Homo sapiens: one gene and its partners. The protein of the gene in region 1 purifies or fractionates together with the protein of each later gene. This does not show direct contact. Each region holds a gene or a part of one and is shown in the gene's direction. Other genes may lie near its edges.

Region 1 (3,654 bases):
TTGTGAAAAGGCCCAAGCAGGAAACTACTTATCTGACAGGGCTGCTATCAATAGATTTAATGAATCCCCTTAATGATACAAAGCTGCACACTCAAGGGGTCTACAAATTTAAGTTAAACTTGCTGAATGCAACTGACTTCATTTTTCTAATGGAACAAGTACCTGCCTCTGAAAAAAAACATAATTTAAGATTCCAATTAGCCTCATTCTCTGGATTCTGTTTGCTTCTTTGCTTCTAAACAAGTTGACATTTCCGATGTTTGATGGATAATTTCAAAGCACAGTTAGTCTGCTCCCCTTCCAATATGTCACATTGAATTTACATGAGTAGTATACATAGTCAAGAAATGTAGTGTGTACTCCTAGGAAATCAATGAAATTTAAAAAAAAAAAGTTCCAAGTTGTTCCAGTGCAATTCAAATGAAGTCAACAGTCAAATCTAGAAAGTTTTTTAGATAGGCCATTTCTCACTCCAAAACCAGAGGTCATTTGCTCTCCTTTCCTCTCTCTCTCTCTCACACACACACACTTGCACAATTTACACACACACAATCACACACACAATACACACAATCTGGATCTCCCAATGAACTACTTCCTGCCTCTGAGTAAAATGATAGCTCTCTAGCTATCCTTGAGAATGGGCAATTGTTATCCTTGCAGAATGGGTAGCCACAAAACAGTGGAGCTCACAGTAGAAGAGAAGATTTAAATATCCCCTTAGTTCGTTCTAGAAGTAAGTTTCGCATGAGAAGCCTGACTCACTGAAAGGTCCATTTCTGAAGTAGCACCTCATTCCAGCACTTGCCAAAAACAGTCTGGAAAGTAGTAGATGATCTTCCTTATTGGTTTGCTCTCCAGAACACAGGAGACCTCTCCTGATCCAATCCAATCAAAACATTTATCATGTTTTGGACTGCCATATACAGTTGTGCAGATTGTGTACTGCACAAAGGTACCTGAAATGATGGTGCTAAAATCTTGTCCACATTCCTTTGCCAGTCGTGCACTCTGGTTCAGGGATGCTTATACCTGGAGCAAAAGGTTTCAATTTTCTCTGCACAAAAGTGCTATCCACTTTCCCAAGCTGTTCACTGGAAAAAAGGGGTGTGTGTGGCATGGAGCAGGGCTAGGAGTTGGGGGAAATGACACATTGTCCTAATTTGGGAAATTCAAGATTAAATAAACAAGATAAATGATAGTTGTTTTAATTTAAACTACAGTATAATTATTCTTTAATCTGGGATGGTCAAGAAGGCACTATTAAAGGTATGGGATTCAAGCTGAGTCTTAACTGGTAAGTAGAATTTATATGGATGTATATAGGGCCTTTAGTCAATAAATATTTATTAAGTACATATTATGTACAAGCTATGAAGCTAGACACTAAGAATATAAAACAAGTGAAATTTGGCCTGCGTCCTTAAGATGGTAACTGATACATAAACTCATAATAACAGTTATTCTGTGATAAACACTGTATGGGAGGCATAAACTGCACAGGGCACAGAGAAGAAAGAGTGGCTATTTCAGTAGAGCACATTCTTCCAAGTTTTGCAAAAAATAGTTGTCTATACCAAACAGCAACAAGGCATAATTCCAAAATGGGGTTCAAAATGTGCAAAAGTATTTTTTAAAATAATTCTACAATGTCTTCACCAAATTAAAAAGCTCTGTTGGCCTCTATAGCCTGTCTCTTATTTTCTTCATCCATTCGTCCTAGTCTTCATGACTATCCTCTCCACTTTCCTGATTGCAAACTAGTTCACTATACTTCAGTGACACACATTAAACAACATAAGCATAAACATTTACAAAGTGTTCCTCCTACATCAGAATACACACATTTCAAAATAGTTGTAGTAACTCCCTCTGATATTCTTTAGCTCCTGAACCTGATGATCATTCTCATAATGTGCTAGCAAGGGAATTTCTGGGACATTTTTTACATCTTAATATTCAAACTACTCATACAGAGATTTTTTTTCTGTATGGATCTTCTTGCCTAGTAATATGATCACAATCTCATGTTACCAGGAAACACAAAATACAGTCAATCTGAAAAATTTTTGATTTCCATGAGTCCGTTCAATTCAATCTACAAAAAACCAATTTATTCCTACTCTACTGTAACTTCTGGGTAGATATAGAAGTGCTCAGGAAAACCTTTTCCTAAAAAAACTGCAGAAAGACCTATCACCTGCATGTCACATATTTTCATTTAGTTCATATGGCTTTCAATTCTGAATTTCATTGTAAAGTAGATTTTATTATACTCATTAGCCTCATCCACTAAAGCACAAGTCTAAACTGTGACATAAAAGCAAAATAACTCTTTTGATTACTACAGTATATATGTGATTGCATCATATATCATTTTGATTGCACATCCAAATTGCATATTTTATATTTAAGTTCAAAGAGTTCTCCACGAGGCATAAATGAAAATTTATGAAGTATGAACAAAGTTTTACAAGACTAAAATTAAAATTATTTCTAACTAGACTAAAAACCAAGAATATAGCCCCAAGTTAACCTAATCACATCACAAGAATGATTCGCTACTCTCTATAATTCAGCCTCATAAGACCACCCCATCTGAGTGTTTCTTATATAGCTATGTGTGTCATTGGCTGGAACTTTCCTTATAGGTGGTTTGTAAGGAGTAAAACTTACTTCTATAGGTGTTACTGTCTTCTTTCCTATGCATTAGCTAAAATTCCATTAGATAAAAATAAATTAGAATCAAAGTAAATTATTAAAATGCTGCTATATTCAGAGTTTCTTAGCATCTTTGACCCCAGGAGCTGAATCTTGACCAATGTTAATCATATTTACTGGGTCTGCAGGAAAACATTTTTGCAAACAGCTAAACAGCTATAATAAATGGTTAAGATAACACTGGGGTAAAGAATCTCTGGCCACAGAATGGAGTAATACAAATTGCTCTTGTGATGTATATCGTCCACATGCAGTTGCTTAAGATTCTGAAAAGGCCAGTACAAATGTGATGATCTGGGGTGAAGCTGTTATTTACTAAATCTAGTGGTTTTCAAACCATGTTCTGTGTATCCATAAGCTTTCAGGCCCCTTCACTTCTTCAATTAGAGCAGTCCAGAATTCATCTGTTTTCCAAACTATAGTTCCATATAACATTTGTTTGTAATGTTGTAAGTTATAATGTTATATTGGTTTTTTTTTTAAGAAAAAAAGATTTAAAAGTCATTGCCTCAGTAAAAAATAATCATCCTTTGGTAATTATCTATCACAACTAAACTTAATTTTAAATGTTTTCTTAATTCAGAGATACTTGTATCTCAGTGGTATCAGTAAAAAATAATCATCCTTTGGCAATTATCTATCACAACTAAACTTAATTTTAAATGTTTTCTTAATTCAGAGATACTTGTATCTCAGTGGTATTTATTCTAGCATCCTTAAAAAAACACACCCACACACAAACACACAAAGTTATTCTTACTTACTCTCATTTAAATTTCAATATAAGAGAAAGAAGTCCCAGAAAATAAAGTTCCCATTCTCTCCTCACAGATTTTAAATATAGTGAATCCCCAATGAATAATTAACAATGAATAACTGAACAAATAATTGATAGGGCAGATTGGATACATAATGAGAGCCCTTTTATTCCAG
Region 2 (3,754 bases), about 73 Mb from region 1:
AGGGATACCTCAGCTGTTTCCTATCCTGAATAAAAGTTCCTGGAGTAAGAGGAAAAGAGTGTCCAACATGGTAAAGAATGTCAATTTATCCCTACCCTTTCATTGCCCCTACTTTCTTTTAAACTTGCATATTAATCATTTGATACTGTTTTTGGGTGAGATAAATACTTGCTTCCCGCAATAGGTGACAGATGAAAGGATTTTATTGTCATATACTAAGAGTGGCATCAGCAGATAAGTGGAACTGTACCTAATTACTGCCAGAAAAGGCAGTTCAGGGTGAACTCCTTTAAAACAAAAATTATCACCCTTTGTATAATTTCTCTAACATCAAATTGACTTATATCCAAGAATCACAGAGCGGATCAAATCATTCAGTTCTTTGGGACTATAATTAACATCCAATTCAACTTAGAAGGTTCATAAGGAAATTCCGCGGCTCAAAATTAGGCGTTAGGTGGGCATTTTACTGAGGGTTTTTTCCCTACGGCCACATGAACAATAAGTAACCCGTCCTTTAAACATTTTTCACACTAAACATTATGCCATGTTCCAAGGCACAGACCATTGCAGCCTCCGTCCCCTCAGCGGCGTAAACACTTGGAATGGGCATGCTGCCCCGTTACTTAGTATTGAGAAGTGGTCACTTTTTGCTCTTCTTAGGTGAGTGTAAGCGACTGCCTTCCCCACTTTAGGTGAACCCCAGGACTTGGAGCGTCTGTGGGTGCTCCTCTAATGGGGACAACTCCTCCCTTCCGACTCCATCGCAGAGAACCCAAAGTTCGAAACCAACAGAACGAAAAGCAACGAAGCACACTTAAAGTGAGGAACCCGGCAAGCGGCGAAATTCTTGCTGAAGAGAAGAAAAAGCGAAAGGTTTTCCGCTGCAACCAATCAGATGAGAGGATTCTTGGCACGCCCCTTTCTATCTACCAATCAACATCTAGCTCAATGGGGCAGTCCATTGCCACAGGGAAAGGGCTTGGTGCAGCTTCCCTCACAACACACACGTCATTCTAGGCCATTCCACGAACTGTGCTCAAAAGAGGAAAACAGTGCAACAGTTCCAAAGCTGATCAGTCTCGTGGTGAGCAGCGAAACTATAGACTTCTCTAACAAAACCATGGATTCTAGGAGGGACTGGGAAAGAGAAAAACGAATTCTGGAAGGCAAACTACAACTCCCAAAGGCCCTTGCGCGGACTCAGCGCGCGAGGGACGAAGGGCGGTCCACTGTAAGGGGAAATGCTGAGGATCACTGGGCTCCTCCCGGCTTTCTGAACGCAAGCCAGCAAGTGGGCGGGACCTGGGGCGGGCGGAGCGGCGAGAGCATCTGCTCCTGCGCTTTGTGGTCTCCTGCCTCCGGCTTCTCCGCCTGCGACGTCGAAGGGGGCGTGGCCTGCGCAGAGGCTGGTGGGGGTGCGGGCGCCGCGGGACTTGGGTGACGCGTCCCTTTCCAGCTCAGCGGTGTGTGAGGTGTCGCGGCCCCGCCGGCGATTGGCTGTTGAGAGGCGAGTACGCGGCGGCCGTTGGTCGCTGGCCTCACGGAGCAAGGCCCCCGGCGGGCGGGGAGGATATGGGGCGGCAGTGGCGGCTGCAGGAGGCGGGCGTGGACGAGCCGGTGGCTGCAGCGGCGGCGGTCCCCGGAGTCCTGTGAAGCGCCCCTGTCCGCGCCTCTGTGGGGCCCTCAGAGAGGGCTGCCAGGACGCGAGCCACTGAGGAGCCGCTCAGCCAGCGCCATAGCCCTTAGGACTATCGGTCACATTCTCGCGCTCCTGCTCCGGCTCCTCCATCTTGGCCTCGGCAGTGGCGGCTGCCGGGAGGATGTGCCGCCTTCTGGCAGGGGGAAGAAGGAGGAGAAGATGAAGAAGCACCGGCGGGCCTTGGCCCTGGTCTCCTGCCTCTTTCTGTGCTCTCTGGTCTGGTGAGTAGCCGCGACGACAAGGGAGTTCCCGTGAGGGGAGTAAATGGGAGGGAGCAGCCCAGGTCACACCCCCTGGTCATTTTGGCTTTTAGGGTCCGGGTTTCCAAGGCCCCCGTGGAAGGGACAAACCGATTACTTCTCGACTCTCCATCTGACTGGTCTGGTAGTGCTCTGTGCGGAGATTTTCATGGTGTATTTTGGAATTTACAGAGACTCAGTGGGAGAGAGAGAGGTGCCAAGGTAGAGGGAACCACCAAGTGCCTTTGTACTCAGTTCCTCTACCCCTTGGAGACGGTGCAGGGTTTGGGGTGGGTGTTCAGATTGATGGTAAGTAAGTTGCTCCGATTTGCCGCCAGTCTTTGCGTTCTTAGTGTGGTAAGGGGATAAAGCACGTCGGATGTGATGCGTTCCGGACGTGCGATTTTAAAACGTGAGTGGTCATGAAGGTAAGAGTAATGTATAAGCAGTAGTTCTCCTGGACATTTCTCGCACAGCGTTTGATCCCAAGTACACTCGGGCCGCTGTTTTTGGAAACTTGGGGGGCGTGTGTGTATGTGTGTTATGAAGCACTTTTTCAATTGGTTTGGTGGAGAGGGTGTCTTAGATGTAGTGTGTGTAGTAGTTTTTGGTAATGCCCCTTAGTGACGGGAAGGTAAATGCTGTATTTTCAAGGCGGGAAGAGTGCTTTGTCCCTAAAGCACTCCTTAAGTTTTACGGAGTTTCTGTTAATCCCAGGCACTTCTGGAGTTTTTTGAGGAGCAGAGAAAGCTTGTAAGTCGAGGGACTGCTGTCACCGTACTTGGAAAAGCCATTCTTTCCTCCCAGGGAATTTCTTCAAAGATGTGTGACAATTGATGACTGAAAAGATGCTTCTTCAGTCTAGGCGATTTGCTGTTTGTTATATTAAAATAGAAATTAAGTTTCCTGTTTTGCTTATTTCTGCAAAGCACCAACACTATTTTCATTTTTATGGATGCCTTATGGATTCCAGAAGCACTGAAATTGTAGAGTTGTTGCTCACATAAAATAATACATAAACAAGGGGAAGAGAAAACACTCGCCTGGCTGAGGGATTTTTATTGGAAGAATGATAGAAGTTTTTGAGAACAAAAACAATTGACTTATTACCTTTCATTCTGAATCCTTTTAATACCCGTCTCCTGTTTTTAATAAAATCCTCCCCTTTCTACTTACTGTGTTGGGTACGGAGAAGTGCCTGTAAGAGATAAATCCACTCACCTCATTTTAAATTTAAATTTGTAGATACTGAAGCTTGTATTCATTTCCATCTCTTTCTGGGGCTGCCTAGTTATATTTGTAGACTGTGTATTTTCTTTCCTCTTTCTTCTTGGTCTTGCCCATCTTTAAACCATGTTATTCATCATCAAAAGTTTCTGAAATGGCTAATAAGGAAAAGGTGAACACTTTCATTCAAGTTTAAAAACACACCAGTATCTCTGGCTTTTTTTAATTTTTTAATTGGATGGTGTAAACGAAATCAAGCAATAGAATGTGATTCTTACAATCATTTGTAAATTTAAGTTAACTCTGCTTCTATTTCTTTTGGGAATTTCTGGCTATCTTTTGATTAAGCTAACCCTCAGTATGTTTTCTCACCTTCAATCATTAGCTCTAGTGAAGAGCTAATGAATTTCCCTGTTAGGGAACAAATCGGTTGGCCTGGTATTGAAAGTAGTAGTAATAAACTTCTGTCAAGTTTTTTAACTCCTAGTGAGGAAAATGGATGTGGAGAGTTTAAGAGTGTGAACATTTTAAGAAACTTTAGCTTAAGAAACTATTGGGTTAGTATATTTTGAGATTTGTTTAGACT
Region 3 (3,654 bases), on another chromosome or scaffold:
GTCTTGTGATTATTGCTTTTTGTGCCTCGTTTAAGAAACCTCTCTCTAATATCATGATGAGATTCTCTTATATCATCTTCTACTGCTAACCACTTTTAAAGTACATTTGGTAACAAATGTTTTTATCTCTGTAGAACCAGTATGAAAAGCATAAAGAAGTAGAAGCAGCTCAGGGGGTAAAGATTCTTGGAAAAGACCTGGAGAAAACATTGGCTGGTTTACCCCTCCTTGTGGCTTATAAAGAAGATGAAATCCCTGTTCTTAAAGTAAGTTCATTTAAAAATTTTTTTCCTTAAAAGCTATTTGAGTTCTGGCATGTGTCAGCATTGCACATGCTAGGGATGGTGACCAAAACTGGCTTTGTCTTTGTGAAGCCTGCCATTTCTTGGCCTCTTAGCAAACTTGATGCTTTTGAATTACTTCAGTTTGTACAATCATAGAAATTGGTATAATTTTTATATGTACTAGAATTATAAAAATAATGCATTTTATTCAAATAAAAAAATGAGTCAAAAGCTAGAAGTCGGCTGGGCATGGTGAATGCACACCTGTAGTCCCAGCTACTTGGGAGGCTGAGGCAGGAGAATCACTTGAACCTGGGAGGCAGAGGCTGCAGTGAGCCAAGATCGTGCCACTGCACTCCAACCTGGGTGACAGCAGGACCCTGTCTAAAAAAAAAAAAGCTAGAAATTGTATATTCTTTTTGGCCCATGTCCATTGTAGTTTCATAAAAGTGGACTTTGAGCCATAGTTTGTTCATTTGCCAAAGAGAAAATACAACTGTTCCCAGCACATGGCTCTTGTGTCCTGGGGCCGTGTTTATTATTTAGGCAGCATCAAGTCATGCTGTTGGGAATAAGCTATCTTAGGGCCAGTGAGAGAATAGGGCAGGCCTGTCTCTTCACCCAGTCCTGAGTATGGAGTGGACTTACGTCCCTTCAGTGGCATTGATAAACTTGTTTTACTTATTTCTGGTTAAAAATCTCTTCTTCCATTTCCCGACAAGCAGTGATGGAGGAAGGAGCTGCTGAGATCATGAGATTATGGTATTTCCTAGTTAACACAGACAAGCTGAACTTTTGGGCTATCATAACACATTACGTTTATGTGGTACTTTTTTAACTTTAAAAAAATTTTTCTTCTCTACTGTTTAATTCTGCCCACCCATCTACTGTATTTGCCAAGTGGAGCGGAGATTAAACATATTTCAAAGTTAGTAAACCTAAGACAAAGGTGAAGCGAAATACAGTTAGGGTATGGCCCCGAAATCTCCTCCTTCATTCCAGCACAGGTTCTGTGATGCCTTGCTCTATCTAAGCCTTAGTTTCATATTTGCAGATGAGTACTTAACCAAAGAGAGAAACACAATTTAATTCTAGACTGCTGAGGATAGAGGTGTGTTGACAACCTTATCAAATCTGATTTCTTTTCAAGGATGAATTGATCCATGAGTTAAAGCAGACACTAAATGCTATCAAATTAGAAGAAAAAGGAGTCTATGTCCAGGCATCTACACTGGGTTCTTTGGAAGCTCTACTGGAATTTCTGAAAACATCAGAAGTGCCCGTAAGTAACTACAACTCGCTCCACAAGTGAATGGTGGTTGGTCGTGGTTTTTGGTGCCATCGCCATTACCTGATACATACAGATAAACATGGAAACTCCCATTTTTTCAGTATGCAGGAATTAACATTGGCCCAGTGCATAAAAAAGATGTTATGAAGGCTTCAGTGATGTTGGAACATGACCCTCAGTAAGTAATTTCTCTTGCTATGAAGGCTTTCATGTTACGTAGCTATCTTAAAACTGTCCTATCTTAAAAAACTGTCCTCTGTGACATACTCTGTTTTTCACTGAATGGTCTTTGATGTGTTTTAACCTTTTAGGTATGCAGTAATTTTGGCCTTCGATGTGAGAATTGAACGAGATGCACAAGAAATGGCTGATAGTTTAGGAGTTAGAATTTTTAGTGCAGAAATTATTTATCATTTATTTGATGCCTTTACAAAATATAGACAAGACTACAAGAAACAGAAACAAGAAGAATTTAAGTAAGTTACTGTTTTTATTTACTTTGAGTCTTTGTTAATGAACATGATTGAGAATTACTGAATTCCAGAAAGGGCTGTAAACAGCAAAATCATGGCATTTACTCATCTACCAGAGGCTGCATCCTGAAATGGTGTGTTACAAACCAGAAACCCAACATACTGGGGACATTCCAGCAGTATGCAAACAAGTCTTGTCTGTGACTTCAGTTTAATAATCTTGGCAGACTTGGGTCTTGTTAATGGGTTCGTAGTTATTAAATGTAGGGACTTTATGTTGCTCATCTGGGATTATATAGATTGGAAGTAACAAAACTTGAGTGAGGAAAACCGGGAAATAAGAGATTCTGTGGGAGAGAAGTCCATTCCTCTACCAAACTTTCACTCAAGCACTCACAGTACCTACATTGCTGCAGTGGTAGAGGAGGCATCAGCAGAGAACCAGGCCAGCCTCCCTCCTCCTTTCCCTTTGAGACAGGGTCTCGTTCTGTCACCCATGCTGCAGTACAGTGGCATGATCATGGGTCACCCCAACCTCTGCCTACTGGGCTCAAGTGATCCTCCCACCTTGGCCTCCCGAGTAGTTGAGACTACAGGCTCACACCACTATGCCTGGCTAATTTTTTGTATTTTTGGTAGAGATAGGGTTTCGCCATGTTGGCCAGGCTGGTCTTGAACTCCTGAGCTCAAGTGATCCACCTGCCTCTGCCTCCCAAAGTGCTGGGATTATAGGTGTAAGCCACTGTGCCTGGTCTGGGACATGCTCTTATTGCAGGACAATTGACACATGTTGAGAAGTGCTGAAAAACCAAATAAAGCAGGGAAGGGCCTAGATAAGGAGAGGAGGGACTGTGATTAATGATGTGGTTTGGGAAGGCATCTCACCTCTTCAGACAGAGTAAGCCACACAGGCACATGGGGAGTGTCCAGAGAGAACAGCAGTGCGAGGCAGAGTGACCAGAAGGGACAGTGATAAATGAGGTCAGAGAGGGTGGCAGGACCTGTATCGTCAAGGATCTTACAGGCCATGGGAGGGATTGAGCTTCTCTGAGTTTTGCAAGAAGCCATTGCCAAGGCTGTGTGTTCACAATCAGACTGGTTAATTGGGTTGTTATGTGGACCTTGGGTTGTTAGGAAGTCAGTGGCAAGAGCCTGTCAGGAGGCTCCCACAGTCCAAGCAAGAGGTCTAGGTGATTCAGACCACAGTGATGATAGGAGTGATGGCGTAGTTTGGGATACATTTTTAAGTGGAGCTTACTAGTAAATATTAGGATTTAGACTGGTATATGCTCACTTTAGATCATGAAACCTGAAGTGAGAAGAATTCTACTTAACAAGACTGCTGGAAACTTTTAAAGCATTTTAAGCGTGTGCTCAATAAGCAGGGTAGTTATGTAGTGGCCTTTTGGATCAATGGTTTGGGAACGTGGTGGAGAAAAGGAGGGTGATAATACGGTCTGATGCCTATGTGATCCCCCAGTAGCCTACATATGTGCCTAACGAAGACCTGCCTGTCACCAGGTACTGCCTAGGTTCTAAGCCCCAGACTGTGGCTGACATCTTCAGCAGCCAAGCTCAGTGTTTTAGACTAGGAACAGAATGCTCC

The links.
Region 2: the proteins of PALMD (region 1) and SUCO purify together in Homo sapiens (affinity purification with mass spectrometry, with the first as the bait; one study listed by BioGRID). This does not show direct contact.
Region 3: the proteins of PALMD (region 1) and EIF5B purify together in Homo sapiens (affinity purification with mass spectrometry, with the first as the bait; one study listed by BioGRID). This does not show direct contact.

The regions. Positions count from the first base shown.
Region 1 is NC_000001.11:99,663,052-99,666,705, forward strand, and holds part of PALMD (palmdelphin), read left to right. Parts: intron 1-3,654.
Region 2 is NC_000001.11:172,531,575-172,535,328, forward strand, and holds the start of SUCO (SUN domain-containing ossification factor isoform 1 precursor), read left to right. Parts: upstream 1-1,575; 5' UTR 1,576-1,602; coding exon of another isoform or gene 1,603-1,861; coding exon 1,862-1,923; intron 1,924-3,754. UniProt on the Homo sapiens protein: Required for bone modeling during late embryogenesis. Regulates type I collagen synthesis in osteoblasts during their postnatal maturation.
Region 3 is NC_000002.12:99,392,833-99,396,486, forward strand, and holds part of EIF5B (eukaryotic translation initiation factor 5B), read left to right. Parts: intron 1-134; coding exon 135-266; intron 267-1,434; coding exon 1,435-1,566; intron 1,567-1,676; coding exon 1,677-1,753; intron 1,754-1,886; coding exon 1,887-2,051; intron 2,052-3,654. UniProt on the Homo sapiens protein: Plays a role in translation initiation.